2 separate regions of the Homo sapiens genome follow, and region 1 is linked to region 2. Evidence: fine-mapped expression QTL. A gene starts in region 2. The other region holds a variant in brackets. All regions are shown on one strand. Distances are between the middles of the regions. Region 1 overlaps IER5L-AS1 (IER5L antisense RNA 1). Region 2 holds the start of IER5L (immediate early response 5 like).

Evidence for each region. PIP is the estimated chance that this variant, and not a neighbour inherited with it, causes the effect. A credible set is the group of variants that fine-mapping cannot tell apart.
Region 1: its variant is the best candidate, but not a certain one, in a credible set for the expression of IER5L in lymphoblastoid cells (GTEx, PIP 0.58).

Annotation. Positions count from the first base shown.
Region 1 is chr9:129,260,202-129,276,251 of GRCh38, forward strand. It overlaps IER5L-AS1 (IER5L antisense RNA 1), which reads left to right. Exons shown (of 7, transcript NR_187590.1): 7 at 1-396. Among named protein-coding and RNA genes, the nearest start is that of LINC02975, 14 kb to the right of the region's middle. The variant T/C (reference allele first, on the strand shown) is at 10,157.
Region 2 is chr9:129,175,226-129,190,227 of GRCh38, forward strand. It overlaps IER5L (immediate early response 5 like), which reads right to left and starts at 3,036. Exons shown (of 1, transcript NM_203434.3): 1 at 327-3,036. The coding sequence starts at 2,827. The coding sequence ends at 1,613. LOC105376289 (a long non-coding RNA gene) reads left to right here and starts at 6,546. Exons shown (of 2, transcript XR_007061813.1): 1 at 6,546-7,959. RefSeq lists enhancers at 1-601, 531-590, 2,965-3,259, 2,997-3,920, 3,921-4,844 and silencers at 128-227, 801-850, 1,191-1,340, 2,291-2,630, 2,861-3,240.

The DNA of each region.
Region 1 (16,050 bases), 86 kb after region 2:
GGCATTTGGTTCTTCCTGGCCTTGGCCTGTGTGGCTCCCATTCTCTGAACTGTCCTGCCCACCTTTATTCGCCTCCCCCAGGAAGCCTCCCTGACCCCCCAGACCCTTTCATTGCCCTCCCTTGGAACAGAAATGTGCTTTTCACTGACTGGATTGGCCCAAAGAGATCTGAACTTGAGGCTGCCTCCTCATGTCACTGAGAGCCCTCTGGGGTGGGCACTGTGCCTTGCTTGCCTCTTTGGTCATAGTGCCCAGCATGAGATTGGTCACATAGTAGGTGCTCAATGAACTCAGATTGAACTAAACTCAAGGACTTGGTCGGGGGGTGGTGGTGGTGAGAAGACCAGCTGGGCTGCTTGGGGAAGTAAAGTATAAAGTTGGATGGAAAAGCACGAGGACCTTGGCTCTATTTCTGGTTCTTGGGGTGGAATAATAATGACAGCAACACCAATGGTGGCTGGCCCCAAAGGTCGTCCCGTGCCAGGCATAGGCTAAGTGCTTTATGAGAACATTATCAATCAATTCCCACAACAGCCTTAAGAGGTACCAACTTTATCAGCATCCCCATTTTAGAGATGAGGGCCCTGAGGCTGGGCCAGGAAGTTATCTTGATCTTGGCTGTCCCTGATTGGAGGGGTGGTGGGAGTTGGGGACGGGCGGCTCTGGCAGAGACCTGCAGGGAGGTTGCAGCTGGCCTGGCCTCTGGAAACAGCCACCTTAATGCTCTGCCCTGAAGCCTCTTTTTTTTTTTTTTTTTTTTTTTTTGAGACAGAGTCTCGCTCTGTCACCTAGGCTGGAGTCCAGTGGCATGATCTCAGCTCACCGCAACCTCCACCTCCCAGGTTCAAACGATTCTTCTGCCTCAGCCTCCCAAGTAGCTGGGACTACAGGCACATGCCACCACACCCGGCTAATTTTTGTATTTTTAGTAGAGTTGGGGTTTCACTATGTTAGCCAGGATGGTCTCGATCTCCTGACCTCGTGGTCTGCCCCCGCCTTGACCTCCCAAAGTGCTGGGATTACAGGCGTGAGCCACCGCGTCCAGCCCCCCAAGCCTCTTCTTTCCTCACTTCCTGTTCTCTGTCCTCATTATTCCACCAGTCTATTGTCATTTTTTTCCCCTTCCCAGCCTGCCCAGCCAGGATATGCGGCAGGAGGTTCATTTTTGAAAGTATAAGAAGGGCCGCCGGGAATGAGTGTCTCACGGGGACAGAGTGTGCGTTTGGGAAGATGAGACGGTTGTGGAGATGGATGGTGGGGATGGTTACACAACAACGTGAATATGCTTAAAGCCACGTTCACGGAACACGTACAAATGACTAAAATGGTAACTTTCTGGTATGGATATTTTACCACAATAAAAAAAAAATGCTAAAAAAATTGTAAAGAAAAAGTGCTTTGTGTTTGCCGAACTTTTGAGGATGGGCCGCCCACTGCACATTTGCCGTTTCCCAAGCGCCTCCCACGGGCCAGGCCACGCACTTCCTCCTTTCATTCTGGAAACAAGCTTGAGGAGAGAGGTGGCGTCCTCCTTGTAGACGAGACTGAGGTTCAGAGCCTGGCAGGGGCGAGGCTGTCTTTGCAAACCCGACAGGCCTCTCTCTGGTTCTAAGAAGCACGGCAGGGACGGGGTAGGAATTTGGGCTCAAAATGGGCCTCTGGGCTGCGGAATCTTGAGCAAATTGCTTCCCATCACTGATCTTCCTCTTCTGACTATTGGGGACAATAATAGTGTCCTCCCTCGTGCAGGGGGAGGATTTGCTGAGATGTCGGAAGGTCCTAGCACAGCATCTTGGCCACCATCAAAAATAAAATTCTCCCCAGAGCTCTCCACGATGCCTCCCTTGCTGTCCAGAGGACAGAGGGCTGGAGGTAAGGTCAGGAGACCCGTGTCAGGGTCTCAGCCCTGAGGCTGACTTTGTCTGTGACCTTGGGGAAGTCCCCTGCCTTCCCTGGTCCTCAGGCTGCCCTCTGTAAAGTTAGGAGAGTGGGTAGAGTCAGCAGGGCTCTCTGGTTCTGGTTTTCTGGGGTTTCTCCCGTAATCCTGGTCCTGTCCAGAATCAATGTCCTCTCTCCCACCACCCGCTCTCTGGGCAGAGGGGTCTGGGCCCATCTCCAGTTCCACCTTTGCCCTCCACCCTGTCTTCTCAGGAGCGTCCAACCCCCAAGCAAGAGGAAAGGGAGGGGAAGGTGAAGGCAACAGAGTTCTTGATCCCAGGGTATGAGTCGCTGCCTAACACCCAGACCTGGCTTCTGACAGAAGCGCCAGCAGGAATTTCCCGCACCTCCGGTGTGAATCCTGTCCAGCTTCCTGCCATTGGCTTGAATTGTTGCCTGGTAACTCTAGGTGCAAATCACCCCTTCCCCGCAAACTACATGCTTTTTTTTTTTTTTTTTTTTTCTGAGACGGAGTTTCGCTCTTGTTGCCCAGGCTGGAGTGCAGTGGTGTGATCTTGGCTCACTGCAACCTCCGCCTCCTGGGTTCAAGCAATTCTCCTGCCTTAACCTCCCCAGTAGCTGGGATTACAGGCATGTGCCACCACGCCCGGCTAATTTTTATATTTTTAGTAGAGATGGGGTTTCACCATGTTGGCCAGGCTGGTCTCAAACTCCTGACCACAAGGGATCTGCCCACCTTGGCCTCCCAAAGTGCCGGGATTAAAGATGTGAGCCACTGTGCCTGGCCTCCCCACAACTACATGTAAGTTTCAGGATCTCAGAGACACGCTTCCTTTTGCCTGTCTCTTCTACCGTCTCCACAGGACTGGGCCAGGGGGGTGCTCCCGAGATATCCCACAGTTTTAGAGGGCCATTTAGCTAGGATCCTGGACGCTGGGAGCAAGAAAAAGAGAAAAATGGTGATTCCAAACTATAGGCTTCTGGAGGAAGAACACGTGCAGGGGAAGGCAGGCAAGGTCAGCACTCTGGGGGCTCCAGCAGATGCCAGGATGGTGCACACCGAATTCCTGGCACACGGGGGCTTAGTGACAGGACCTGGGCTATGGTGGTCACTGATAAATCATAATATTAAGAAACTCTAATGGGACATCCACAGGTGCTGGATGGAGAAAGGTAAGCATTTGGAGACATTTGACCACGATGATAATTTTCACACTAGGTGATGTTTTAGGGGTGATCACTGCATTTGAGGCACTGTGCTGAGCACTGACAGTCAAATTTCGTTTACATCTTAGAATGAGGCAGAGACTGTTGGCTTCTGCATTTTACAGATGGAGGCTGTATTAGTCTGTTCTCACATTGCTATAAAGAACTACCTGAGACTGGGTAATTTATAAAGAAAAGAGGTTTAATTGGCTCATGGTTCTGGGTAATTTACAAAGAAAAGAGGTTTAATTGGCTCATGATTCTGAAGGCTATATAGGAAGCATGGCTGGGGAGGCCTCAGGAAACTTACAGTAATGGTGGGAGGCGAAGGGGAAGCAGGCACACTTACCTGACTGGAGAGGGGAGTGGTACTGCCTACTTTTAAACAACCAGATCTTGTGAGAACTCACTCACTCTCATGAGAACAGCAATGAGGAGGTCAGCCCCATGATCCAAACACCCTCCACCAGGTTCCTCCTCCAGCACTGGGGATTACAATTTGACATGAGATTTGGGTGGGGACAGAAATCCAAACCGTATCAGAGACACTAAGGCTTCGGGGAAGCTGTGCCCAAGGTCACACAGCTGGTAATGATGCAGGGCAGGTGAGCCCCCAGATTGGGGCTTAGCCCTGGAGGGTTCTTGGCTTTGCCCAGGAAAGAATTCAAGGGTGAGCCGCTGGCATTAGGCAGCAGCTTGTATTGAGAAGGCTGTGCACAGCGGCAGCAGAGGTTCTGCTCTTAGTGGAACAGGGCTCTCCCATGGGCAGTGTGCCCAGAGTAGCAGCTCAGAGGCCGTTCTGCACTCATATTTATTATACCCACTTTTATTTTATTTTATTTTACTTATTTTAAGGTGGAGTCTCGCTCTGTCACCCAGTCTGGAGTGAAGTGGCACGATCTTGGCTCACTGCAACCTCCACCTCCCGGGTTCCGGTGATTCTCTTGCCTCAGCCTCCTGAGTAGCTGGGATTACAAGCACCCATCACCACACCCAGCTAACTTTTGTATCTTTAGTAAAGATGGGGTTTCACCATGTTGGCCAGGCTGGTTTCGAACTCCTGACCTCAGGTGATCTGCCGGTCTTTGGCTTCCCAAAGTGCTGGGATTACAGGTATGAGCCACCGTGCCCGTCCAATATACCCACTTTTAATTATTTCCAAATCAAGGGGCAGATTTTGCAGCGATTTTGAGAAAAAGAGTGGTAACTTCCCAATGATTGGGTTGTTGCCATGGAAAGGGGCAGTAACTGCCAGGTGTTGCCATGGCAATGGTAAACTGACATGGCACACCAGTGGGCGTGTCTTACAGAGAAGTGCTTTTGTCCCTTCCCTGTTTTAGCTAGTTCTCCATTTGATCAGGTGTTTGAGCCCCACCTCAGAGTCCAGTCCTGCCTCCTACCTCACGAAATGGCTGAGATTGAGAGACACATGTGGGCTGGGATTGAGGAAGGCCCAGAATTAGGGAGTAATGGGGTTTGGGGAGGACAGTTTACTGCCCAGGCTTGGTGGGGGTGGTGGGGAGTTGGTGTTCAGTCTAGCAGGTGAGAAGCAGCCACAGTGGGCCAGGGATAGGGGAGCATCGGAAATCACAGGGATGAGAAACAGTACTGAACAGACTTCTCCAGCCCTGACCAGACCTCAGTTCAGCAGGCGCTCAAATGACCATAGGTCCTATGAGGGAAGCTCTAAATCAACTTTCAAGCAAGAAAGGGAGCCCCCTGCTCCTCCATCTCATCCAGCCTCCTTCTATTTATTTATTTATTTATTTGAGACAGAGTCTCTCTCTGTCGCACAGACTGGAGCGCAGTGGTGAGATCTCGGCTCACTACAACCTCCGCCTCCCGGGTTCAAGTGATTCTCCTGACTCAGCTTCCCGAGTAGCTGGGACTACAGGCATGGGCCACCACTCCCGGGTAATTTTTGTATTTTTAGTAGAGATGGGATTTTACCATCTTGGCCAGGTTGGTCTTGAACTCCTGACCTCAGGTGATCCACCTGCCTCTGCCTTCCAAAGTGCTAGGATGACAGTCACGAGCCACTGCGCCTGGTCCACCAGCCTCCTTCTAGAGCTGAAACTGACTGTGAGAAAATGTGGGCCTTCATCAGAAAATCCATTCATTCATATGCTCATTAATTCACTATCTACTAAGCAGCACTCTGTGCCAGGCACTGTTCTCGCCCAGAAACACAGCAGGAAAAAGAGACAAAACTTTCTGCCATCATGGCCTCTACGTTCTAGTGGAGGGAGATGGACAGTAAGTGAAAAACTGCGTACGTTATATACTTTATTAGAGGTGACAGATACTATACAATGGAGAAAAATAAAGGTGGGGAGGGCAGAGAGAGTCCCAGGAAAGGTGGTTTGTGATGTAAAATAAGGGGGATGGGCATGGTGGCTCACAAATGGGGCGTGGGCAAGATGAGCCTGGAGTTGACAAGGAAGGGTGGGCTTAAGCGATTCTTGTGCCTCAGCCTCCCGAGCAGCTGGGATTACAGGTGCGTGCCACCATGCCAGGTTAATTTTTGTTTTTTTTTTTAGTAGAGATGGGCTTTCACTATGCTGCTCAGGCTGGTCTCAAACTCCTGGCCTCAAGTGATCTGTCTGCCTCAGCCTCCCAAAGTGCTGGGATTACAGGCATGAGCCGTTGTGCCCGGCTTCGGTTATCCTTTTTTATATGGTGAAAAAAGTACACAACCATAAAATATACCATCTTCACCATTTAAACAAAAAATTTTTTGAGACAGGGTCTCGCTATGTTGCCCAAGCAGGAGTACAATGTCTATTTGCAGGCATGATCATGGCTCACTGCAGCCTCCAACTCCTAGGCTCATGCGATCCTCCTGTCTCAGCCTCCTGAGTAGCTGCGACTACAGTGTGTGACACTGAGCCTGGCTCCGGCTTCACCATTTTTCAGTGTGTATTGCAGTGGCATTAAGAACATTCACATTCTCTGCAGCCATCACCACCATCCATCTCCAGAACCTTTTCATCTTCCTGAACTGAAACACTGTACCCAGTGAGCACCACCTCCTTATTCTCCCCTGCCCAGCCCTGGGCAGCTACCATCTGGTTTCTAGCTCTATGAATTTGACTGCTCTAGGGACCTCATATAAATGGAGTCATACGGTCTTTGTTTTTTTGGGTGTCTGGCTTATTTCTCTTAGCATAATGTCCCCAAGGTCAGTCCACACTGTAGCAAGAATCAGAATTCCCTTCCTTTTAAGGGCCCTGTGATATTCATCAATGACATATCCTTTCCAAGGACACGAGTCAACTTGTAACAGTGCCCAAGGCCTGAGTCTCAGTCATTTCAAGGATTTTAGAGGCCACAGACATGGGGAGGAAGGAACCAGCCAAGAAGCTTGAGGAAGCATGGCGGTGAGGTTGGAGGGGAAAGAATCATGAGTGCCTGCAGCGGGTATCGAGGCAGAGGGAGTGATGCCAGGGCCACAGCCTGCTGAGGGTCAGGGAAGAGGAGGCTGGAGATCCACCATCGGATGAGCAGTGGGAAGGCCATTGATGAGCTTTACAAGAGCAATGTTGGTGGACAGAGGGTGTGGCACCTGTCTGGAGTGAGTTCTGGGAGCCTGGGATGAGAAGAAGCAGACACAACAGGTAGAGAACTCTCTCCCTCTCTCTTTTCTTTTAGAGACAGGGTTTTGCTCTGTCACCCGGGCTGGAGAGCAGTGGTGCCATCATAGCTCACTGCAGCCTCAAACTCCGGGCTCAAGCAATCCTCCTACCTCGGCCTCCCAAAGTGCTGGGATTACAGGGGTAAGCCACTGCACCTGGTCAACTCTTTTGATAAATGTTGCCATAAAGGGGAGCAGAGAAATGGGGTGATGGCCGGAGAGAGGGGTGCAGTCAGAGGCTTTGCCAAGGTGGGAGTGGCCGCGGCCCTTCTGGATGCTGGTGAGAACTGTGCCGCAGGGATGGGACTGTGGGTGATGCAGGACAGAGCAGGACTGGAGCTCCTCCTCCAGGGGAGTTGGGATCTGGTGCAAGACAGGGTTGCCTGGGGGCCTGAGTGTCGATGTCTGGAAGCAGGAAGGTGGCTGAGGGACAGGCCCAGGCACCCAGGGGTAGAAGCCAAGGTGACCGTCCCTGGGTTTTATCCTTCTTGTCTCTGTCCCTCTGAAATAAAAAGCAGGGTCGCCAGGTGAGAGAGAGTCGGAGAGATGGTGTGGGTGGGCGAGGGACGAGGAGGAGGGCTGGACTTGTGACCCAGCAGGGGGCAAGTGGATGGGCAGGGAAGGAGATTTAACCGATGGAAATCATGCCGGCTGTGCACCTGCTCTGTGCCAGGAGTCATGCCAATAGCACTTCCACGTTTTCTCATTTAATTCTCCCAGCTCTCTATGTGGTGTCTGTCATTTTTATTTTCCATTTTACAGAGGTGGAGACTTTAAGTCTGAGGAAGGTGCCATGGTCTGAATGTGTGTGCCCCTCAGATACATGAGTTGAAACCTAACCCCTAAGGTGGTGGCATGAGGAGGTGGGGCCTTTGGGGGTGACCTGGTCATGATGGTGGAGCCCTTAGGAATGGGATTCATGCCCTTATAGAAGAGGCCCCAGAGAGCTGTCTTGTCCCTTCCACGTGAGGATGCAGAGATGTGGTGCTGTCTATGAACCAGAAAGTGACCCTCCCCAGACACTGAATCTGCTGGTGCCTTAATCTTGGACTTCCAGCCTCTAGAACTGTGGGAAATCAATCTTTGTTGTTTTTCTTTACTTTTTTCTTTTTTGAGACAGGGTCTCACTCTGTCGCCCAGGCTGGAGTGCCTGGCACAATCACCGCTCACTGTAGCCTCAACCTTCCTGGCTCAAGCGATCCTCAGACTCCTGAGTAGCTGGGACCGCAAGTGTGCACCATGACACCTGGCTAATTTGATTTTGATTTTCATGTTTTATAGAGAAACGGTCTTGCCGTGTTGCCCAGGCTGGTCTCCAACTCCTGGGCTCAAGTGATCCTCCTGAAGTGTTGGGATTACAGGCATGAGCCACTTTGCCCGGCCTAATCTCTATTGTGTTTTATTTTTATTTTAAATTTTTTCCCTTTTACTACATATGTAACAAAACTGCACTAATCTCTGTATTTTATAAGCTACCTAGTTTATAAAACTAGGCAGTTTATGGTATTTGTCTCAGCAGTCCAAACAGACTAGCATAGAAGGTGATACAACTTTCCTTCGATTATATAACCTGTAAGACTGACCACCAAACAATCCTGTCCAAATCCCAGAAGAAGCCTGAAGACTATTTTTTCAATTATAAAATTACATTTTTCCCTCTCTGTAAAAGTACTAAATGTTTATTTCAGAAAATTAAAAAATTCAAAGTAAGGTAAATATGAAAAAAAAATTAAATGCTTATAGTTTCACCATCCAGGAATAATGACTGTTAAATGGGGTGATTTCCTTGCAGTAATGTTTTTTATACATATTAACTGGCAGACGTGATGCTGTGTGTTCAGCAAATCCTGTTTCCCTTCTCCTCTGACATGCAGCTAGACTACATTTCCCAGCCTCCCCTGCAAGGAGAGTGTCACATGACTGGGTCTGACCAGTGGAATGTGGGAGAAGGTAATGTCCCTTACTTATCAGCCTGTTCCATAAAATCTTCTATTACTCCTTCAAGTTCTCTCTTCTTTGGATGCTCTCAGGATGGGAAGGACCCAGTGAAGGACCTAGTGAAGGACTCCAACACCCTAGTGAGCAGCCAAGCTGCTAGATGGAAGAAACCAGGGTTCCCAAATGACCCAGTAGAGTCAAGACTCTTCCCAACCCCTGCTGCCCAACATTTGACAGTGTCTTGGGGAGAAATGAACCTTAGTTGTGTTAAGCCATTGAACTCTGGGAGTTGTTGGTTAAAGCAGTTAGCCTTACACAGCAACATCATGTAAATATTGGAATCATATTACAGATACCCTTTTTGGCAGGCCAGGGGCAGTGGCCCATGCTTGTAATTCCAGCATTTGAGGCTAGGAGTTCGAGGCCAGTTTGGCCAACATGGCAAAACCCCATCTCTACTAAAAATACAAAAATTAGCCAGGCGTGATGGCACATGCCTGTAATTCCAGCTACTCGGGAGGCTGAGGCATGAGATCACTTGAATCCGGGAGGTGGAGGTTGCAGTAAGCTGAGATCATATCACCGTACTCCAGCCTGGGTGACAAAATGAAACTCTGCCTCAAAAAAAAAAGATACCCTTTTAGGCTGATTTATTATTATTGTTACTATTACTTAACATTTATCACAACCTTTCACCATATTATTAAATCACTTTTTTTTTGAGACAGAGTCTTGCTCCATTGCTCAGGCTGAAGTGCAGTGGTGCAATCTCGGCTCACTGCAACCTCCACCTCCCTGGCTCAGGTGATCCTCCCACCTCCACCTACCAAGTAGCTGGGACTACAGGCGCCTGCCACCATGCCCAACTAATTTTTGTATTTATTTATTTATTTTTGAGATGGAGTTTCGCTCTCGTTGCCCAGGCTGCAGTGCAAATGGCGCGATCTTGGCTCACTGCAATCTCCGCCTCCCAGGTTCAAGTGATTCTCCTGCCTCAGCCTCCCGAGTAGCTGGGATTACAGGCATGCGCCACCACGCCTGGCTAATTTTGTATTTTTAGTAGAGACAGGGTTTCTCCATGTTGGTCAGGTTGGTCTCAAATTTCCAACATCAGGTGATCCGCCCACCTCGGCCTCCCAAATTGCTGGGATTATAGGCATGAGCCACTGCGCCTGGCCTAATTTTTGTATTTTTAGTAGAGATGGGGTCTCACCATGTTGGCCAGGCTGGTCTTGAACTCTTGGCCTCAAGTGTTCCGACTGCCTCAGCCTCCCAAATTGCTGGGATTAGAGCCATGAGCCACCATGCTGGGCCCATATCATGAAACCACTTTTGACAGCATAATTTTAATGGTGGCACAGAGTCCGTTATCATTATTTATTTACCCAGTCCCGTGTGGATATGTAGGTTGCTTCTGACATTTGCGTTTGTATGTCATGCTCCAGTGAACATCCTGGTGATCAACTGGGTGGCCCCATC[T/C]GCAGATGCACTTGTGAAACCTACCTTGGTTTCCTGCCTGAGCCTCTCCTGTATCGGTGCTTAAAAGGGTGCCCTAACTCTGCAGAAACTATCAGTAGAAATGAGTGTAGGGGGCCAGGCGCGATGGCTCACGCCTGCAATCTCAGCACTTTGGGAAGCCAAGGTTGGTGGATCACTTGAGGTCAGGAGTTCGAGACCAGCCTGGCCAATATGGTGAAACCCCGCCTCGAATAAAAATACAAAAATTAGCTGGGCTTGATGGCGCGAGCCTGTAATCCCAGCTGCTTGGGAGGCTGAGGCAGGAGAATCACCTGAACCTGGGAGGCAGAGGTTGCAATGAGCTGAGATTGCACCATTGTACTCCAGCCTGGGTAACAGAGTGAGACTCTGTGTCAAAACAAAAAAACAGAAGAGTGTAGGGGGTGAAATGTACGTTCTTGGGCTAAGTTGTGTGAAAAGCCTGGATTTTCCAGATCTGATCTCCTTTTGCCCTGTGCCCCCTTTCCTGCTGATGTCTTGGCAGTGGGGAGAGGAGGGGTGACAAAACCGAAAGTCTCTCTTTTTTTTTTTTTGTAAAGTCGTCTCTTACAGGAAAATATGTGGTCCTTTCAAAGCCCTATCCCTTGTAAGGGTGGTTTCTCTGCACTCGGGGGGGTCTCCCTCCTGTTTCCTTTTGAAGATGGTGTCTGGCTGTGTGGAGAAGCTTGCATGGGCCAGGACAGGAGTCTCTTGCCCTACTTGCCATCACTGGACCTGCTCAGGAGGGGCGGGTCTGGTCTGCCCTGGTCTCCGGGAACCGCATCCACGTTCTCTGAGGCTGACTGGACTTCGCTTTGCCCTGAAAACTTCCAATTCACAGTCAATCTTCTTCCCATATGTTGTTTTTTTCTGTGGCTGCTCTAATAAAGTCCCACAAACCCGGTGGTTGAAAACCACAGAAATGTGTTCTCTCACAGTCCCAGAGGCCAGAAGTCTGAAATCAATGTGTGGGCAGTGCCGTGCCTCCTCTGAAACCTCTAGGGGAAGGTCCTTTCTTGCCTTTCCGGCTTTAGCCCCAGACTTACAAATGCATCTCTCCACTCTCTGCCTCCAATGTCACATGGCATTTTCCTCTTCTTCTAAGAACACCACTCATATTGGATTAGGCCCCACCTAATGACCTCTTCTTAATTATATCTGCAAGGACCTTTATTTCCAAATAAGGTCACATTCACAGGTACTGGGGGTTAGGGCCGCAGCATATCTTTTTTGGGGACACACTTCAACCCATAAGACCATCCCATTCAGTTCCTGGGCTTCCTCCACTCAGCTGCAGGGGTTGGGGGTCTCTGTGAGACTGTCCTCAGCCCCTCTGCCTGGGGACTGGGGACCCTCAGTCATTTCCATCTGCTGCAGCCTGGCCACACTGGGTGCAATGTCAGGCCTAAGGTGAGCCTCGCAGACCCCTTAGGATGCATCCTGGGGACATAGGCACCAGCTCTGATGTCCTCGGATCCCCCAAACCTATCTGAATCTTTCTACTGCCCCCAGACGCCTCACGCCTGACTTTCAGCCTCCCTTCCCCTCCTCCTGCCCTGAAAGGGGCTTCCAGTCCCCGCTGCTGTCTAGCAGGGACTCTCCTTTTGTCACAGTCCCCTTCTTCCCTAGTCAGGGATGCAGATGGTATCCACACGGCTCTTCATGGGACCAAACGCTTCATGGTTTAAGTTTTATGGTAGGGAGATGCTGGGGAGAGAGAAAATGTACTGAATTAGCAACAGGGGAGACACAGCAGGAAACATTTCCACAATTCTATGCCTGTTGAAATGATTTTGATGTTGAGCCCTATTTGCCTTGACCTTTTTTCTTGTTTTTTTTTTGAGATGAAGTCTTGCTCTGTTGCCCAGGCTGGAGTGCAGTGGTGTGATCTCAGTTCACTGCAACCTCCACCTCCCGGGTTCAAGCAATTCTCCTGCCTCAGCCTCCTGAGTAGCTGGGATTACAGGCATGCACCGCCACGTCATGCTAATGTTTGTATTTTTAGTAGAGACTGGGTTTCACCATGTTGGCCAGGCTGTTCTTGAACTCCTGACTTCAGTGATCCGCCCATCTTGGCCTCCCAAAGTGCTGGGATTACAGGGGTGAGCCACTGCGCCTGACCTTGCCTTGACATTTGAAAGGCTAAACAAGGCAAACCCTGGCCTTATTTCCTCCCCCAGCCCAGTTACCCGCTCAGCCAGCCCAGCCATGCTTCCCAGTCAGTCTCCCACTGCTCCTGGCCTCTTCTGGCCCCTTGGCACACGTTCTCATTTTCTGGAACACTCTTCCCCTACCCCCTTCCCTGGGCAACTCCTCCTCATGCTTTGGGTCCCAGCTTGTACAATACTTCATCGGAGAAGTTGCCCCCCATGCCCCAGACACATGACCCCCACCATGGGCTGCGTGTTTTATATTTGTGACCCTCAGCGGACCACAAGCTCCATGAGGGGAGGGGCCATGTCATTTCCTTCACCTCTGCTGTTCCTACTACTGGCACTTGTAGTGAGGTAGGGTGGGACTGGACTCTGGAGGCAGACCTTGGACACTGGACCAAATTGACCTTGGACACTGGACTAGCTAAAGCAAGCCTGGGGTGGAAGCACCTCTTCATAAGGCTGCCCACCAGTGTGCCATGCCAGTTTACCATTGGCATGGCAACACCCAGAAGTGACTGCCCTTTCCATGGCAACAGCCCAATGATCTGGAAGTTACCACCCTTTTCCTAGAAATTTCTACATGAACTGTCCCTTAATTTGCATATAATTAAAAGTGGGTATCACTATGAGTGCAGAATTGGATCTGAGCTGCCACTCTGGGCACACAGCCTGCGGGGGAGCCCTGCTCTGCAGGGAGCAGTTCCTCCGCTGGGCTAGGCATGGCCACTTTAATACAAGCTGTTGTCTAACACCACCAGCTCACCCTTACATACTTTCCTGGGTGAAGCCAAGAACCCTCCTGGGTTAAGCCCCAGTTTTGGGGCTCATCTGCCCCGCATCAGTAGGAACCCACCAAGTGTGGGAAGAGGGAATGGAAGCCAGCGGAAGTGATGCCATCATTTTGTATGATGTTTACTCCGTGAAAGTGCCGACATGCAGCTGTTGTCAACCTACAAACATGGCAACTGCTTATGATCAAAGCCCTCCTCAAGCCCCCACTTTTGGTAGACCCCCATCACTTGGTGATGGTCAGCTCGTCTGCTGGGGAGGGGAGGCTGCAAATGGTCTGTCATTTACCGGGCATTTCCTTTCTCCTCTCGAGTTGACAACCGACCCTTTCAGGCTCAGCCGGTTCTACCTTGAGTGAGAGCGTGAGTGTGCGATGAAGTAGCTCCCATGGTTTAGCTAGCTGCTCTCCATGCCCTCCCTCCACACCCTGCTGAGTTCGCTTCATGCATCTTGTCTTAGAGCAGCTTGGAGACTGACCACTATTTGAGCCAGTGTACAGCAGCAGTGAAGAGCAATGGATTTGGTATCAAACAGCCCCCAGCATGGGGCCTGGCACACAGTAGGTGTTCAATAAATGCTGATGGAATTATGAAAAACAAATTGGGATTTGTGTCACAGCTCTGCTACTTATTGGCTTTGAGACCCTGGGCAAGTGACACATGCTCTCTGAGCTCAGCTCCTCCCGTGGTATCTGGAGACCCCCGAGGTCAGCCTCACCCAGACACCTTCCCAGCTTCATCTCTGACTGCACTCGTGTGCTTCAGCCAGACACACCACTTGCTGTTTCTGTTCCAACCTCATCCGTCTTCCAGGCTCCTTGCTCCTTTCAGGCCGGCCCTTGCACCTGGACCGATTTTTACCAAACGAGGTGATGTGTGTCAAAGCACATTGGCGATGGATGGCTACTATCAAACAAACAGAAAATAGTAAGTGTTGATGAGGATGTGGAGAAATTGGAGCTCTCGGGCATTGCTGGTGGGAATGAAAATGGTGCAGCCGCCGTGGAAAACAGCATGGCAGTTCCTCAAAAAAAGTAAAAATAGAATTACCATATGATCTAGCATTTCCACTTCTGGGTATATACTCAGAAGAATTGAAAGCAGGGTCTCAAAGAGAGATCTGTGCACCCATCGTCATAGCAGCATTATTCGCAATAGCCAAAAGGTGGAAGCATCGATGGGCGAATGGATACGCAAAATGTGGTGTAGACACGCAAGGGACTCGGATTCAGCCTTAAAGAGGAAGGAGGTTCTGACACACATTGCAGTGTGGATGAACCTTGAGGATATTATGCTAGTGAAATAAGCCAGCCCCAAAAAGTTAAATGCTGTATGATTCCACTTACACAAAATACTTAGAGTCGTCATAATCATAGAGACAGAGAGTGTTGCCAGGGGCTGGAGGGAGCGGGTAACGGGAATGAGCGTTTACTGGGGACAGAATCTCATACTATAAAGATGAAAACTTTCTAGAGATGAAGGTGGTGATGCTTGCACAACCACGTGCGTGTACGATGCCACTGGACTGAACATGTAAAATGCTTGCAATGGTAAACTATGTGTTATGTGTATTTTACAAGCAAAAAAAGAAAACTTTGGTAATTGCCTGTGCCAGAAGCCACCATGCCCTGGCTTAGCGGGACAGAGGAGCCAGCCCCTGGGAACAGACTCCTACCCTTGAGAAAAGGCTAAGACCACTGTGGTGGGCTCTCCCCAGGCTCCCCTTGCTCTAGCCTGGCCTTGCCTCTCGGTTCCCTGAATCAATCAATCTTTCTTTCTTTCTTTTTCTTTCTTTCCTTCTTTCTCTCTCGCTCTTTCTTTCCTTCCTTCCTTTCTCTTTCTTTCCTTCCTTCCTTCCTTTATCTTTCTTTCTTCCTTTCCTTTCTTTCTTTCCTTCTCTCTCTCTTTCTTTCCTTCCTTCCTTTCTCTTTCTTTCTTTCTCTTTCTTTCTTTCCTTCCTTCCTTCTTCTTTCTTTCTTTCTTTCTTTCTTTCTTTCTTTCTTTCTTTCTTTCGGTCTCGCTCTGTCACTCAGGCTGGAGTGCAGGGGCACAATCACAGCACACTGCCACCTTGACTTCCTGGGCTCAAGCAAACCTCCCACCTCAGCCTCCTAAGCAGCTGGGACCACAGGCACATGCCACCATGCCCAGCTAATTTTTGTATTTTTTGTAAGGACGAGGTCTCACTATGTTGCCCAGGCTGGTCTCAAACTCCTGAGCTCAAGTGATCCTCTAGTCTCGGCCTCCCAAAGTGCTGAGATTACAGGTGGGAGCCCCTACATCTGTTCTGAAATCTTCTTCGCCCTTCCCCCCACCCCCTTGTCAGCCCCTACGTCAACAGCCACGTCCATGATACACCCTGGGTCCTGACTTGGTCAGTAACACCCTCCCATCTGCCATTTCCGCCTGAAGCATCCCATCTTGGAGCACTGCCTCTTGTCTTTCCACACATTCCCTCTGCAACCTTAACTCTGATCTTTCTTTGCCTCTTGCCATCTGCCCCCAGGGCACATTCCTTTTCCTTCACCTCCCGTGTCCTCTGCTTCCTTGGGTTCCAGGCTCATTGTCTGCTGCAGACGCCCTCAGTCACCCTGCCCTCCCCCTCCTCCATCCACCTGGCAGAACCCCTGTCCCGGTTGAGTTCTGGGTGCTGCTCAGTGTGCTCTGACATCCAAGCAGCGGAGCCCTGGACAAAGCCACCTGATGGCACAAACAGCTTTATATCTCATGACCTTGACCTCCAACAAACATTTGTGCTGTCCAGCAATCCTCTGTGTTCCTCGGTCAGCTTGCAGCCCCCGTCTCCCAGACCACAACTTCTCTCTCTCCCCAAACCTCCAATACCCCACCCTCCCTCAGCCCTCATTCTCACTGTCGGATGATAGGTTGCTTTTTTTTTTTTTTGAGGCAGGATCTTGCTATGTTGCTGAGG
Region 2 (15,002 bases):
GCCGACCAGGCCCTGCGCCTGTGCCTGGGCAGGAAATGTGCTGGAGGCTGGCTCCGCTTCCCGCTGGAGACCCCGGGGCGGCCAGTTCCCGTGGGGGACAGGACCCCCCTGGAGCGGGGGCGGCCGAGAGACGCGCAGCACCCGCTTCATCCCCAGCCACCAACATCACCCCCCATTCTCCCACCGCCGACCTTGCGGATGTGGGTAGATCCCGCCCGCCCAGGCCGAAGAGAACTGGGGTTTACATGGGGGTGGGCGGGGTCTCTCCCCACACCTCTCTATCCTCTCTGACGCCCCCAGACATCTGAAAACAAGGCACCACCATCTTCTGTAATCGACTTTTTATTAAGATTATAAATTTAAACAATCTGAACAGTTTTACCCGGTGATATACAATTCAGTATGCACAAAAATACAGGGTAATGAGGGAAAAGGGCCGAGAAAGGAAGGATTGGCAACTCGTTTTGGAGTCCACACGGTGCTGATGGCAGAGAACCAGAGGGGCTGCAGACGAACCCCACCTTTTTACAACAAAAGGCTTTTAAATTAAACAAATCTATCGAGCTGAAGACACAGGACGGGGTTCTCACAGGCTCGAACAATGCTGGTTTCATGAAATGCAACCGAAGGCTGAACCAAGGCAGTGCAACTTAGAAGCACACACACAAACACCACAGCTGACCAGGAACTTAGTGCAAAGTCTCCAACGCAGTCGGCGGTCCCGGCCCCTCCCTCCCCCGGGGCCGCCGGGGATCCAGGTGAAGGAATTGACTTCCTTTTTTGTTTAGTGAGGACCGCAGTGCTAGGCATGATGGGAAATGTAGTCCGCCGTGCCCGCCCCCCACCCCTTACCCAGTGTCCGAGAGTGTCGGGGTGTCAGGCGCCACCCCCGAGTCCGGGAGACGGGTGGAGGAGGGGAGGAGAACGGAGCCAGAGGGGCGGGGAGAAGAGGGGTTCAAGACACCCGCCCCGGGAAGAAAAGAAAAAAAAAGTTGAAGTGTTTTCATTTCTGCCTTCTCATTTTGAGAACTTTGGAGTCCGCCCCCAGAGAGGAAATGTGACCCAAACGTCCCTTTCGGAGATAGAGTTTGCCTTTGTTTTTGCTCAGAATTTCACAAGACCCATTCCTCACCCCACAGAGGGACTCGGGAGAGCGGAACGTCGGGCTTCCCGGGTCTGACAACTGATTGGAATCGGCTTCCCAGGTCCGGCGCCCTCCTGAGCTGCGCCCCCGGCGCGCCCCGGCGGCCAGGGCGCCCTGCCTCGCCCCCGGCTGCCCGGCACCTCCTCCGGGCAGCAGCCCTCCCTCACGTGGTAGGCTCCTCGCTAAACACCACTGCAATCACTACAATAAAAAGAAAAAAAGGAGTAGGAGAAACACAAAGCATACTTAAATAGGCGCTTTTTCTCTCTGCAAAAATAAAGTCCAAGATTTTAGATTTCTTTTTTTTTTATTTTACAATTTATAAAACATCAGCCGCCTGCCCCCGCTCGCCCCCAGCTCAGCCCCGAGTGGCCCGGCGCCCGCTCGTTCCCTCCTCTCGCCCCTTTGCCGAGTCTTTGTCTGGCCCCAGCCCCGCGGGGCCCCGGGTCCCTGTGCCCTCGGGGGTCCCTAGAAGGCGACAATGGCTCGAGTCCAGGCGCCGAGGCTGGCGAGCGCCTGCTTGGCGCACAGCTGCCCGTTGAGCGGCGGCGGCTGCTCCGAGGAGTCCGGCTGTCGGCTCACCAGCCCCGAGAAGCCGGAGCCAAAGATGGAGATCAAGTTTGAGATGTTGGACGCGTCCGGGGACGAGTCCGGGCAGAAGTCCTCGAAGCGGGCGCGCTTGCAGGGGGCGAACGGGGCGCCCCCGGGGGGCTCGGCCCCCAGCCCGCCCGCATCCTCCTCGTCGTCTTCCTCCTCCTCCTGGCCAGGGTAATACTTGCGCTTGCAGCCGGCGGCGGACGCCAGGCCCGGTCCCGGAGCGCCCTGGCCACAGCAGGGGCAGTGGGCGGAGGCGCAGCAGTCCTGGTGCAAGTAGCCGTTCTCCACCGTGGTCACCACGTGAGTGTCTAGGTCCAGCACGGTGGTCTGGCTGCTGCAGTGCAAGCCGAAGTCCGAAGGGGTAGGGTATGCGCCCCGGTAGAAGCCGGGGGAGGAGGCGGGGGCCGGGGAGGCGGGCGGAGAAGCGGCGGCGGCCGGAGGGGCGGCCCCTGGGGGCGCGGAGCAGGCGGCCGGGGCGCGAGGGTCCCGCGGGCAGAGCGCAGCGGGCGCGGGCGGCGGCAGCGGCAGCGGCAGCGGCGCAGGACCCGGCTGCAGAGGCTCCAAGGGCTGCCCGCGGTGGGGCGCGCCGTGCGGCGGCTGGAGCGCGGCGCACCCGGGCAGCTCCGAGAGCGCCCCCGCGCCGCCCGCGGGCGCTCCGGCCGCCGCCGCCGCCGCGCAGCCCCTGGGCGCCGGGTGCTGGTGCTGGTGCAGCTGCTGCTGGAGGTGCAGCTGGTGGAGCTGGTGGAGCTGGTGCAGCTGGTGCCGGGCGGCCGGCTCGCGCGCCTCCGCGTCCCCGCCGCCGCCAAGTTGGAGCGGGCCGAAGTCGGCCGCGCTGGCCGGCATGCCCGGCGCCGCGTACGCTAGGTGCTGGTGCTGGTGGTGGGGCGGCTGCTGCTGTTGCTGCTGCTGCTGGCGCCGGTAGAGCTCGGCGTAGCGCTCGCTCAGGTAGAGCTGGCGCGCGTTGCGGAGCACGTAGGACACCAGGAGGTTCTTGTGCAGCTTGATGCCGCCGCGCTGGGTTCGGGAGCTGTGGATCTTGCGCAGGGAGATGCTGATCAGGCTCTGGGCGTCCAGGGCGCACTCCATGCTCCCGCGGAGACGGCGGCGGAGCAGCCGCCGCCGCTGCTGCTGTTAACGCTTCTGCTGTTTCTGCCTCCAGCCGGCCGCCGGGGCGCGCCGGGCAGGGGTAACGGAGTCCGGGTCAGAGGTTCGGCTGCGCTCCGAAAGGAGCCGCCACCATGCGCCGCGCGCCACCCGCGGGCTCGCGCTCCCCAGACGGCGCCAAAGCAATGAGTCTCGGCCGGCCCCGGCCCCAGCTATTTAGCCGGGTGCCCGGGCCCCGCCCCACATGAGAAGAGCCAATAGGAGCTCTGAGAGTCTCCTGAGTGACAGGCGCAGCCCGCCCCGGGGCTACTCGGCTGGCCAATCAGACCAAGGCGGTTCCTTTGTGCTATTCAAATACCGAACGGACCCCGGGCCTCCAACGCCGCTGCTGCCTCGAATGTTCTCCTGGGGCTGCCGCGCCGCGCGGGACTCGGAGCCGCCGGGGCCGCAGTCTGCAGCATAGGTCGCCTGGCAGCGGCCACGTTGAAGCCCGCGGCTGCCCTCGCCTTAGGTCCCGGGAGCCGGGGGTCGGCTCACCTGAGTGCTGCGGCGACGGCTCCTCCCCTTTCCGCACGGCTGGGCCTCACCTGCGGCAGGTGCGCGCCGCTCATCGCTCCCCCAGCGGCGCGGCGCCTCCACCTGCGCACCTGTCGCCCCCCCGAGTGACCCGCGGGAGTCAAGGCCTCTCTACAGGAGGCTGGTGGAGCCGCCGGCTTGACACTGGGGAACATCAAAGGAGCGAGGTTTTGGGGGTACCCTCTACCGCAGAGAATGTAGGGCCTGACTCCTTGACTTTTTGGTCGAGGGGCCTCTGGGAATGCTTGCGGAAGGGAAGTCCTCCCCATTTGTCTGACAGGAAAAACCAAAACATCGTGAATTTTGACCTTCTCTGATGGAGAGAGTTCCGAGGCCAGGCATGACCCAGGGAGTGTGTGGACCTCGCGACCAGCTGAGGCTCAAAAGCGTCCTGGGAGCCGAAACGCTGAGTGCCCTAATCACCAGCTCTGTAACCTTTCCTTTCGTGCCTAACTAATAATAATGACAATAGGGACTATTATTATGGGCCTAATATGGGGCAGGCCCTTCCCAGCAACTCCCCAATGCCTCACTCTAACGTTTGTAGAGGAGGGGCCTGAGGCTCGGAGGAGTGGAGTGACTTGGGGAACCACACAGTTCCCAGGGGGCGGAGCTAGGAGCTGGGACAGGACCCTGCGCTCGAGACGGGAGGTGAATACCAAAGGCCCGGGGACTCACCGACTTAACTTCTGTTGACACAGCTTTCCTTCTTATCCTGAACCCTTCAGGTCCCAGCTGGGGACTGAGACAGTGGGAGAAGAGAGGGACAGGATTGCTGATTCCTGGGGGCGCTCTATCTGGACCAAGAGGCCTGAAGGGGGCTGGTTGCTGCTCCCAGGGGTTTCAAAGGTGCCTGGGGTGGGGGCTGCCCAGACAGCTCTGGAGGCTCTTGGAAATGGTCTGGAGGTTTGCCTGAGGAGGGTCCATGAGTGGATCCCTGAAGGATGAACGAGGTCTGCAGAGTCTCCCAGAGATAGGTGGACCTTGTGGGGCTGGACTCAGGGGGGAGGCCCATGACCAGACGTCCTGCTGCTTCACCGCCTCCTCAGGGGATCTTCTGAGTCTCTGCTTTTTGGGGCTTCCTTCTGAGTTCTCAGCACCTACTTCATCCCTTGGTGGGAGTGGAGAGACCCAGTAGCCCACCCTGTGGTCTCTGGGTCTTTCTTTAGTCTTAAGAATTTCCAAGATTTCTGCAAAAGTTTCTTAGCATCTACTCCATGCCAGGCGTTGAGAGTGAAGACAGAGTTAGCGGGTGTTTACTTCATTTTTCCGATGAGGAAACTCGGACACTGACAGCGTGAGACTTGCCCAAGATCACATGGCCCCAGGGCTGGTGCTGTGTCCTTCCCTTGGCCCCCTCGAACAATCTCAAACGCTTTGGGCCCCTGTGACCAATAGCACCTCTCCAGGCCTCCTCCCAGAGAAGCCAGGATTGAAATTTCAGGGGACTTCAGATAAAGGATGTCCTACCTACATTTTATTGGTGATACAGACCTACAGGCTGTGGAACTTGCTCAGGTGATAACACGTAGAAGTAAAAATACACTGCCCTTCACTTCCCTGGTGCCTGTCTTAAAGGCACACAAAGACTTTATTTATGGCCGGGCGCGGTGGCTCACGCCTGTAATCCCAGCACTTCGGGAGGCCGAGGCGGACAGATCACGAGGTCAGGAGATCAAGAGCTTCCTGGCTAACACAGTGAAACCCTGTCTCTACTAAAAATCACAAAAAATTAGCTGGGCGTGGTGGCGGGTGCTTGTAGTCCCAGCTATTTGGGAGGCTGGGACAGGAGAATGGTGTGAACCCGGGAGGCGGAGCTTGCAGTGAGCCCAGATGGCGCCACTGCACTCCAACCTGGGCAACAGAGTGAGACTCCGTCTCAAAAAAAAAAAAAAAAAAAGACTTTATTTATTTATGTTTGAAGTTCACCTTTGAGACATCACTAGCATGCAGAGGGATCTGGGAGCTCTTACCGGCTTTACAGCTGTGAGGACTCTGTATGCAACAGTGAAGTCTGGGATCCACAGTGTCTGGCACACTGCAAGCCCACAGCTCCAGAAAATATTATCAGCACTGATTTGGGGTCTTCTTTCTGTCATGGCCCAGTGTTTATTGGGGGAAACTAAGAGTTTACACACCTTGCTTGAGGTCACATACCAGCAAGGGGTGGAGTCAAGATCTGAGCCCAAACCCATCTGTTTCCAGGGTGGGAGTTCACCAGAGGTTCCTCCAAATCAGCTTCCGCTGTCAGTGGAGCCAAGGCCAGTTCTCAGGGCCCAGCTCTTGGTGAATATGATCTTGGTTTGATCGACCCCCACCGCTTTACTGCCAAGTGCTGTGGGACCAGGGCCCATAAGGAAGCAAATGTCAGTCTCAGCCTCAGCCCCTCATTCAGAGCTGTACCCCAGAACATGAATCTGGGGGCCCAGATGGGGAAACAGGGCAGGGATGGAGGTGGATTTCCACCTACAGGTTGGGGGCAGAAGGACCAGGCCCCTCACATGGGCAGCTCCTCGTGGCACCTCCTAGTCCCCCACAAGGTGAGTTTGGGGATCTTTGAAGTTCCTTTCATTCACTGGGGCCAGCTGAGAAGTGGTCAGCCTCTTCTGGGTGGCCCCATCCTCTGGGTCTGTTGGGGGCCCACACTCTGTCTCTCCTCTTTCTCAAGAACTGAGAAGTGGGCTAATGGGGAGGGCTCAGCAGTTGTGCAGCTTCATAAAAACCCTTGGTCTTTTTTGAGGTGGGCTGGGAAGGGGAGGCACCACAGCTGTCGTCAGGAAAACCTTGCTGAAGGAGGCAATGGAACAGCTGCACTATTTGGTGCCCGGGGGAGCGGTGTGGCTTGGGGGGCACATAGTAGGAATTCACAAACGTTTATAGAATGGGTGGTTTGCATGCCAGGCTTCTGCTGGGATGCATAAAGGTTCAGGGCAGCCAGTGTGTGCATGTGTGTGAGAATGTATGTGCCCACGTGTCAGGAGAAGGTACCCTCAGATCTGCACCCCACGAAGGGGAATAGGCCCAAACGAGACAAGGATGAAGGGCTGGCCTTATTTCTCTGTACACCTGAGAAAGGTTGGGGATCTCACCTTTCCCCCTGGAGCTGGGGAGGTTACATCTGGCACAGAGTCACTGCTCCCTGGAGGAAGTTAATTAATGCCTCAGTATTTACCAAGTGTCTGCTGGGGCAGCATGGAGCTGGGGCATGGAACCGCTGGGGACCTGGGCTCCCATCAAACCCCAGGTGGTGTCAGCCCTCCATCAGAGCAGTTAACACTTCACAAGTGCACATATGTCTGTGGACACCTTCTGGTCACCCGGGCTTGGTGGCAGGGGACATGGTTAGGAAGGCCCCTGATCCACAGTGGGATTTGCCCTGTTGGCTCCCGGGGGTTAACTTGGGGAAGGGGTCCATAGGCAAAAAACTGTATTGGGGTGTTGTGTTGGAGGAAGTGGGAGAGAAACTTGGAATTCACACATTCATTCATTTTTCATTTGCCTGAGAGATACTTCCAGAATCCTTCTCTGGAGTCCCTGGGAATGGGTCAGGGAACAAGATGTGATTCTGCCTTCAGAAGGCCACGATTCAGAGGGAAGCAGACAAGCTAGATAGACCAGAAAATACTGAGAGCTAAGTCTGTGATTGGAAGGACAGGGCTGGAGGAGGGCAGGTCCAAGGTCCAAGGCTGGTCTGGGAAGTGAGAAGCTGAGACCTGGAGACCAGGAAGAGGGGGGATCTTCTAGCAGCGAGAACAGCAACGAAGGGGCCCAGCCAAAGGCCGGGTCCACAGTGGGCCCTGACCTGTGGCATGAGTGAATCAATGAACCTAAGGATGCAGACAACATTGCTAGTTTGAAGGGCCCTGGAGACCAGATTGACCCCCAGCCTCAATTTCCAGATGGGTAAACTGAGGTCTGGAGAAGAGGAGGGATGTGCTCTGTGTTCAAGACATGGGACCACAGCTGGGGTTGGAAATCAGACGTCTCACCTCCGGGTCCTGCCTCTAGCTGCCCTAGTGCACTGTGTCTCTGGCTGGGAGTGTGGCTTGTTCCAGAGGGGTGGGGACCGAAACCCAGGGCTTCGGGCAGTGGCAGGGAAGGCAGAGGGTGTGGCTGGCCACAGGGGTCACTGTTGAGTCTTCTCTTTCTTAGGCTGAGGAGCCAGTGGCGCTGTAGCTGGTGGACACTGGGGAACGAGGCTAGGGCTGCGGATCTGGGGTAGCCTCCGCTGGCCCCACAGAACTTGCTCCCTGTCACTGGCCCGGGTGGAGGTTAATGACCCCCGCCCTTCGCTGTTGTCTGTGTTTTCCTAGCATAGTCCTGGGCAATAGGCCTAGTGCCCAGAAAGCCACTGTGGCCCTGGCTTCAAGGACCTTAAGTGTAATGAGAAAGACTGACAGTGGTTTGGCTCTTCTTGGAGCTCTCGCTCTTACCAGGCACTGGACCAAGTCTCCCTGAATTTCCACACCAACCTTTGAGGCAGGTTCAGTTATAATTCCCATTTCATGGATGGAGCAACCGAGGCACAGAGAGCTTGGGTGAGTTGCCTGTTCACACCGAAAGGAAGGAGACGTCACAGGGCTCTGGGGGTGGGGGGCGGGGCACTAGGAACTTCGGGAGAGGAATGAGGCTCTTTCGTTTGTCGGTCCTCTGGGTGAATTCTGCACTTGTCCATGGAGTGTGCATAGGGTACAGATGTGATATCTCACATCTGGGGTCCCTGCTCCAGCATCTGGCAAAGGCTGCGTGTTCATTTGTTCATTCATTCATTCATTCATTCATTTATTCACCATGGGCTGAATGCTGGCTAATGTGTAGGGGCTGTGCTAAACTGTGAGGAGCAGGGCAGGCAGATGTCACTCCCCTGAGCCATGCTGAGGCATCCTTGATTCTTTGGAGCCAGATCTGATTGACTAGTGGTGTCTGCCTGGAGCCCTGGGTGCTCCAATTGATTAGTGATGTCTGCCAAGGGCTCAGCTGGAGCTTTTAGGGCAAGCCTGCTGGGAGGTGCTCTGGGGTGAGGATGGGGTGTCCTTCAGTGCTCTGCACATCTGGGTGGCCTAACAGATAGGGTGGAGACTGGGGGGATGGGGGCTGGAGAAATGGGTTCTAGCTTCAGATTGGCCTTGTTATCCTTAGGGAACGCAGATTGCTTCTCTCGGGCCTCAGTTTCCTCATTTGTCACCTGACTCACAAGTGCTTTGAACGTTGAGAGGCACTGTGAAGGGATTAGTACTGAGCTGAGACCGGAAACTTCCCCTGCCCTCTTTTCTCCTTTCTCAAGATCCTGCCTGGAGCTGAGCACTCTGGGCAGGCCAGAGTTAATCCTGGGCCGGGCTGGTGTGTGTGTGTGTGTGTGTGTGTGTGTGCAAGAGTGTGTGTGTGAGTATGCGTGTGTGCATGTGAGTATAAGAGTGTGTGCATGTGTGTGCACATGTGTGAGAGAGAGTGTGTGTGTGTGTGTGGTGGTGGCAGCTCAGCTTTCCTGGCTGAGTTGTTTATAACTCACTCAGTACAGACCTTTGTCCCTTCCCCAGCTCAGCTGGGAGTTTCTAAGGAGTGAGAAGCTCCTTGAGTCTTAGGAATCCTATAATTTTTTTTTCTTTTTTTTTTTTCATTTGAGTGGTGGGAGCTGGCGTACGTGCCTCTCTCCTCCCCACTCCCCACTCCATGAGTAATAACTGTAGACACCATCGTGTCAGGCCCAGGACAACGTGTAACATGTATTATTTGTCATTAATCCTCCAAAGGATCTCACGAGGCGATGGTACTGCATTCCCCCTTTCCCAGACTGAGACCTGGGGAAGTGAGGTTGCACACCTGGAGCCACACCTCTCTCGCTGCTATGTGGGTCCCATCCTCTGGTCTGAGCTTCATCCATCTTTGCCAGCTGTGCTTCGCCCTGGCTCTTTCCACCATTCATTCATTTCCTCACTTGCTCAGTGGTCCTTTCACAAATATTAAGTGCCTACTGTGTGCCACAGCAGCCCCTGCCATCGTGAGCCTCATGTGCAGGCATTCCAGATGGAAAAACAAGCAAGCAGTAAGTAAGCAGATAAATAAATAAGCTTGCGAGGAGGGGATAAGGGAAGTCAGCCAGGCTTGGGGTGGGGCCTAGAGGGAGGGGAGAGTGTCTGGCTCCCAGGCCTCCCACCACCGTCTGGTGCTCCCTGGTGGGCCTGTCCCCCTTCTCAGCTCCCAGACTCTCCAGCCGTCGGTTCTGAAGCTCAAGCTGCACTGGTGCCCCTCCTGCTCCCCACCCTAGTGAATTCTTAATGCTACTTGCACGGAACAAAGCAGTTTTGGTTTTCGTTTTGAGAGCATTTCTCAAAAAATCATTTCTCAAGTGTGTGTGAGGAGAGAGTAGGAGAGCACAGCGAACCCCGGCTGTCTGCCCTCAATTCCTCTCCCAAGCTCCTTTTCATTCCTGTTTAATTTTTTTGAAAAAATGGGGCCAATTAGAATTTCAGTTCCTGACCTTGTGTTGGTGAAAGGGCACCAGGCAGGGCCCTTGACATCTGTGTCCTGTGTCCACCCAGCCCCTTGGGGGCTCAGGCGCTGTCATTGCCTTCGTCATACAGATGAGGAAACTGAGGCATAGGAAGAAGTTTCCGGTCAGGGGCCTCCCACCGAGTGGCGGACTGGAGCGGGGCATGATCCATACTCAGACCTCTCAGCCAGCCTCTTTCCGTACTCCACACTGGCTAGCCCATCACACACACACACACAGACACACACACATGCACACGCACACATCCTACACATACACAAACATGCATGCACACACACGCACCCAAATGTACACATGCTCACAGAAACATACACAAACACATGCACACACCACACATGCACACACAGACACACAAACATGCACACACATGTGCACACACAAACATGATGCGCACACCCACACCCACATATACACATGCTCACACGCACACACACCCTGCACACACCACATATGCACACACATGCACACACAAACATGATGTGCACACAATGCACTCACATATACAAATGCCCACACACATGCACACACACACCCTGCACATACACAAATGCATGCACACACACAGACACACAAACATGCAAACACATGCACACGCACACACCCTGCACACACACACACGGCACACACACATCGTACACACACAGCACACACACGCACATGCACTCACACACACACTTGGGGCTAAGTGAGCTGCCCACAGTCACAATGCCGGCCTCAGGAGGGTAGAAACGAGGGAGGGCGCCTGGCCTGTGGCTTCAAAGGGGCAGAGAAGAGGAGGGAGAGAGATGTGCATTGGGGAGAGTGGAACCTCGTGGTTTGAGGAGGGGGCAGGGCCTTCTCCCAGAACTGACCCCAGAATGTGGCACAGTGGGTCTCTCTGTCTTGTGTCCCGGGTGATGGCCCCCAGTACCCTCTCCTTAGTTTATTTCCTGAGTACTTGCCGTGTCCTCGCCACTAAGTTTTTTGCTTGATGAATCATCTCTGTGAATCCTCCTGATAGAATCTGCAGCAGAGGTACTTTCATTACCACGCCCATTTCACAGGCCGGGAGGCTGAGGCTCAGAGAGGGTAAGCGACTGCACCTTAGACTGGCTTGTCTCCACAGCCAGCTTGCTTAACCCTGACACCTGGCAGGGGAGGGGCGGGGGGCAGGCACTTAACGGGAAGCAGAAGGTGGCTTCCAGGACTCAGAATGGAGGCGCGGGAATATCTGTGTAACCCTGACAATCCTCTACGCTGCTCTTGCTCATTCTTGCAGCCTGGTTTCATGGGTTCCTAGTGCTCTGCTCCGTGGCTGCTCCTCCAGGGACAGCTGCAATGGCCCAGCCTGGTGTCTCATCTTCCCTTCTTGCTGCCTTCATCCTTCCTCATGGCAGCGTCTCTCCTCAGTTCCTGATTTTTCTGCTTGGCAACGAGGACATCTTATTTATTTATTTTATTTATTTAAGAGGGAATCTCACTCTGTTGCCCAGGCTGGAGTGCGGTGGTACGATCTTGGCTCACTGCAACCTCCACCTCCTGGGTTCGAGTGATTCTCCTGCCTCAGCCTCCTGAGTAGCTGGGATTACAGGCGCACGTCACCACATCCGGCTAACTTTCGTATTTTTAGTAGTGATGGGGTTTTGCCATGTTGGTCAGGCTGGCCTTGAACTCCTGACCTCAAGTGATCTGTCCACCTCAGCCTCCCAAAGTGCTGAGATTACAGGTGTGTGAATTACAGGCGTGTGAGCCACCACACCCGGCCCAACGAGGACATCTTTAGTCCTATTGCCTCATTCGTAAGAAAATGGAAGGGATTTTTATAAAGGGCTGTGTGAGATGAGCTATGCTTTGTTGCAGTAACAAATAATTCCTGCTGGACAGTGTGGTTCACCCAGCTACTCTGAAGGCTGAAGTGGGAGAATCTTTTGAGGGCAGGAGTTCAAGACCAGCCTGGGCAACATAGTAAGACCCCTGTCTGTAAAACAAAAACAAACTTCCTGCATCTTTGAGGCTTGATCCAATGAAAGTCTCCTTCTTTCTCTTTTTGAAGGATGTTATATGGGGAAGCCCTAATTGGCATCCCTCCCTTCCATTGGCCAGAGCTGGGTCATGTGTCATCAGCTAGCTGCAAGGGAGCCTGGGAAATTTAGTCCTCAGGTGTGCTCCAGGACTGGCAGCCCTATTTCTCCACATCCAAATGACCTGGTTCAGTGAATACACAGCGTTGCCACTGACACAGGGCCTTGAACAATGAAAAAGTGGATCTTTGACTGGTTCATTGATCACAAAAATAAGCTATGATGCTCTCAGCTGGTGGTAGGGGTGAGGGCATAGTGGGCACCTCTCATCACACAGCTACTAAGAAAATGTTTATTTTTTAACCTGTCTGTCCATCTCCCCCATTAGACTGTAAATTCCCTGAGGACAGGTCCATAAGTCTCTGCTTGGCAGCTTCCTTAGTCCTTGACAAATAATAGATGCCCAATTAGTATTTTCTCAATGAACAAACATTGCCTTCTTGAAAGGATTTTGGTGAACAACTGTTTAGCTTCTCATGCATCAGATGTGTACAAAAATATATTTTCACATCACAGCAGTCTAGCATGAAGCCCTTTTTTTTTTGAGACAGGGTCTTGCTCTGTTGCCCAGGCTGGAGTGCAGTGGTGTGATCGTGGTTCACTGCAACCTCCGACTCCCGGGCTCAAGAGATTCTCCCGCCTCAGTCTCCTGAGTAGCTCGGAATAAAGGTGCACGCCAGCATGCCTGGCTAATTGTTGTATTTTTTTTTTTTTTGGTAGAGATGGGGTTTTGCCATGTTGCCCAGGCTGGTCTCAAACCCCTGGGCTCAAATGATCTGCCTCCTTAGCCTCCCAAAGTGCTGGGATTACAGGCATGAGCCACCATGCCTGGCTGAAGGCCCTCTTTTAAAAAAAGTTTTAATCAGTCTTGTCCTTCTGCTAAGGTTGAGCACTGCTGTTTAATCAACAAGCATCATTCTTTTATTTTTCTTGAGACAGAGTCTTGCTCTGTCGCTCAGGCTAAAATGCAGTGGTGCGATCTCGGCACACTGCAACCTCTGCCTCCCAAGCTCAAGTGATTCTCCTGCCTCAGCCTCCCAGGTAGCTGGGATTACAGGCGCCCAACAACATGCCGGCTAATTTTTGTATTTTCAGTAGAGACAGGGTTTCACCATATTGGCCAGGCTGGTCTTGAAGTCCTGACCTCAGGCGATCCACCCGCCTCGGCCTCTCGAAGTGTTGGGATTACAGGCTTGAGCCACTGCACCCGGCCCCATTCACTGTTGATTCATTCACTGATTCTTTGATGACTAGAGGGATGGATCGATTCACTCCTTCAGCGGACATTTGTTGAGTATCTACTATGTCTGATGCCCTTTCCAAGACAGAAGAGAAGGGGAAGGGACAGTGGCTTGCAATATACCCACAGAGACGGGGTTTTCTAATTGTCTAATGAAATCGATAATATTTAATTCTATGAAACCACAGCTTGATGGTCTCACCGTAATATCATACACTGAATTTAATCTATTCTAAGTCACCACCTTCCTCCCATATCTAACATCTCTAAAATTGAGAAGTGTCTTACCATTGATAACACCTTCGATTTGGCAAAGTCAGGCCATTATACTCATTGGACTAGTTAACGTTTATCTATCTATCTATCTATCTATCTATCTATCTATCTATCTATCATCTATCTATCTATCTATCTACCTATCTGATGGAGTCTTGCTCTTGTTGCCCAGGCTGGAGTGCAGTGGCGTGATCTTAGCTCACTGCAACCTCTGCCTCCCGGATTCAAGTGATTCTCCTGCCTCAGCCTCCCGAGTAGCTGGGATTACAGGCGTGTGCCACCACACCCCGCTAATTTTTGTATTTTTAGTAGAAACGAGGTTTCACCATGTTGGTCAGGCTGGTCTGGAACTCCTGACCTCAAGTGATCCTCCTGTCTTGGCCTCCCAGAGTGCTGGGATTACAGGCGTGAGCCACCACGCTCGGCCTGTTCATTTACTTTTTTATAGCCTAAGTGAACACTGAGATAATGAACATTTACAAGGCAGGCATGACATACAGCATGCCCCATCATCTCACACTTAGTGACTAGTTAGTTCTGTCCCTGTGTTGGTTAGGGCGGCCTATTAGGGTCACGGAGAGGGGAAGGGAACCATTGTTTCTTTCGAACTGAGTATATATTTGGCAGTGTGCTTGTTCATGACACAAGATTTTTAAAAACACCCCACCAAGCGCTTGTATCATCTCCATTTTACGGGGGATTTTAAGAGACCAGGGCTTTGCTGGAATCCCTCATTGGAAGAGCTGCGGTTCCAACCAGTGCTGCCCTATTCCGGAGCCCATACTCTGAATCACCCTCCACTGCTGCGTGCAGATGCCCACGCTGGGATGCAGTCGCCAGCCCCATTTCGAAAGAGGGAACTGAGGTCCACAGAGCTCACCTGCTCTTCTTAGACTCACAACGTCAGAAAGTCATAGGGCTGGGGTGTGAACCCCAGTCTCTTATTTCCCAGAACCCAAATGCTAATGGCTCTACTCTCCTGCATCTGGCTTCCCCAGGGCCTTAAAAATGAGGCTGGACTGACAGGGGGAGGGTCCTGAGACCAAGCCTGGAAAGGGAGTCTCTTTGAGCCCTTCTGTCTTTAAGATTCGGGATGAGGATGCCCGGGGCATGCCCGCCATGCCCACTAGGTTAGTTTTGGGCCAGAGGGAATCAGATTCTGATGAAGCTGAAAAGGCAGCTGATAAAATGAGTGACAGCAGCCTTTCTTACAGCATCAGAGGGGCCCGGTGATGGGAGGCGATCCTTGTGAACATTTTAGTGGGACTTAAGCAGTTTTGGAAACTCCATAACTAAATTTGATTGTAAACAAGCATGAGAATAGGCTGGGTGGGGTGGCTCAGGCCTGTAATCCCAGTGCTTTGGGACAGCAAGGCAGGTGGATTGCTTGAGGCCAAGAGTTTGAGAGCAGGCTGGGCAACATAGCGAGATCCCATTTCTACAGATAAAAAAGACTTAAACAAGGCCAGGTGCGGTGGCTCACACCTGTAATCC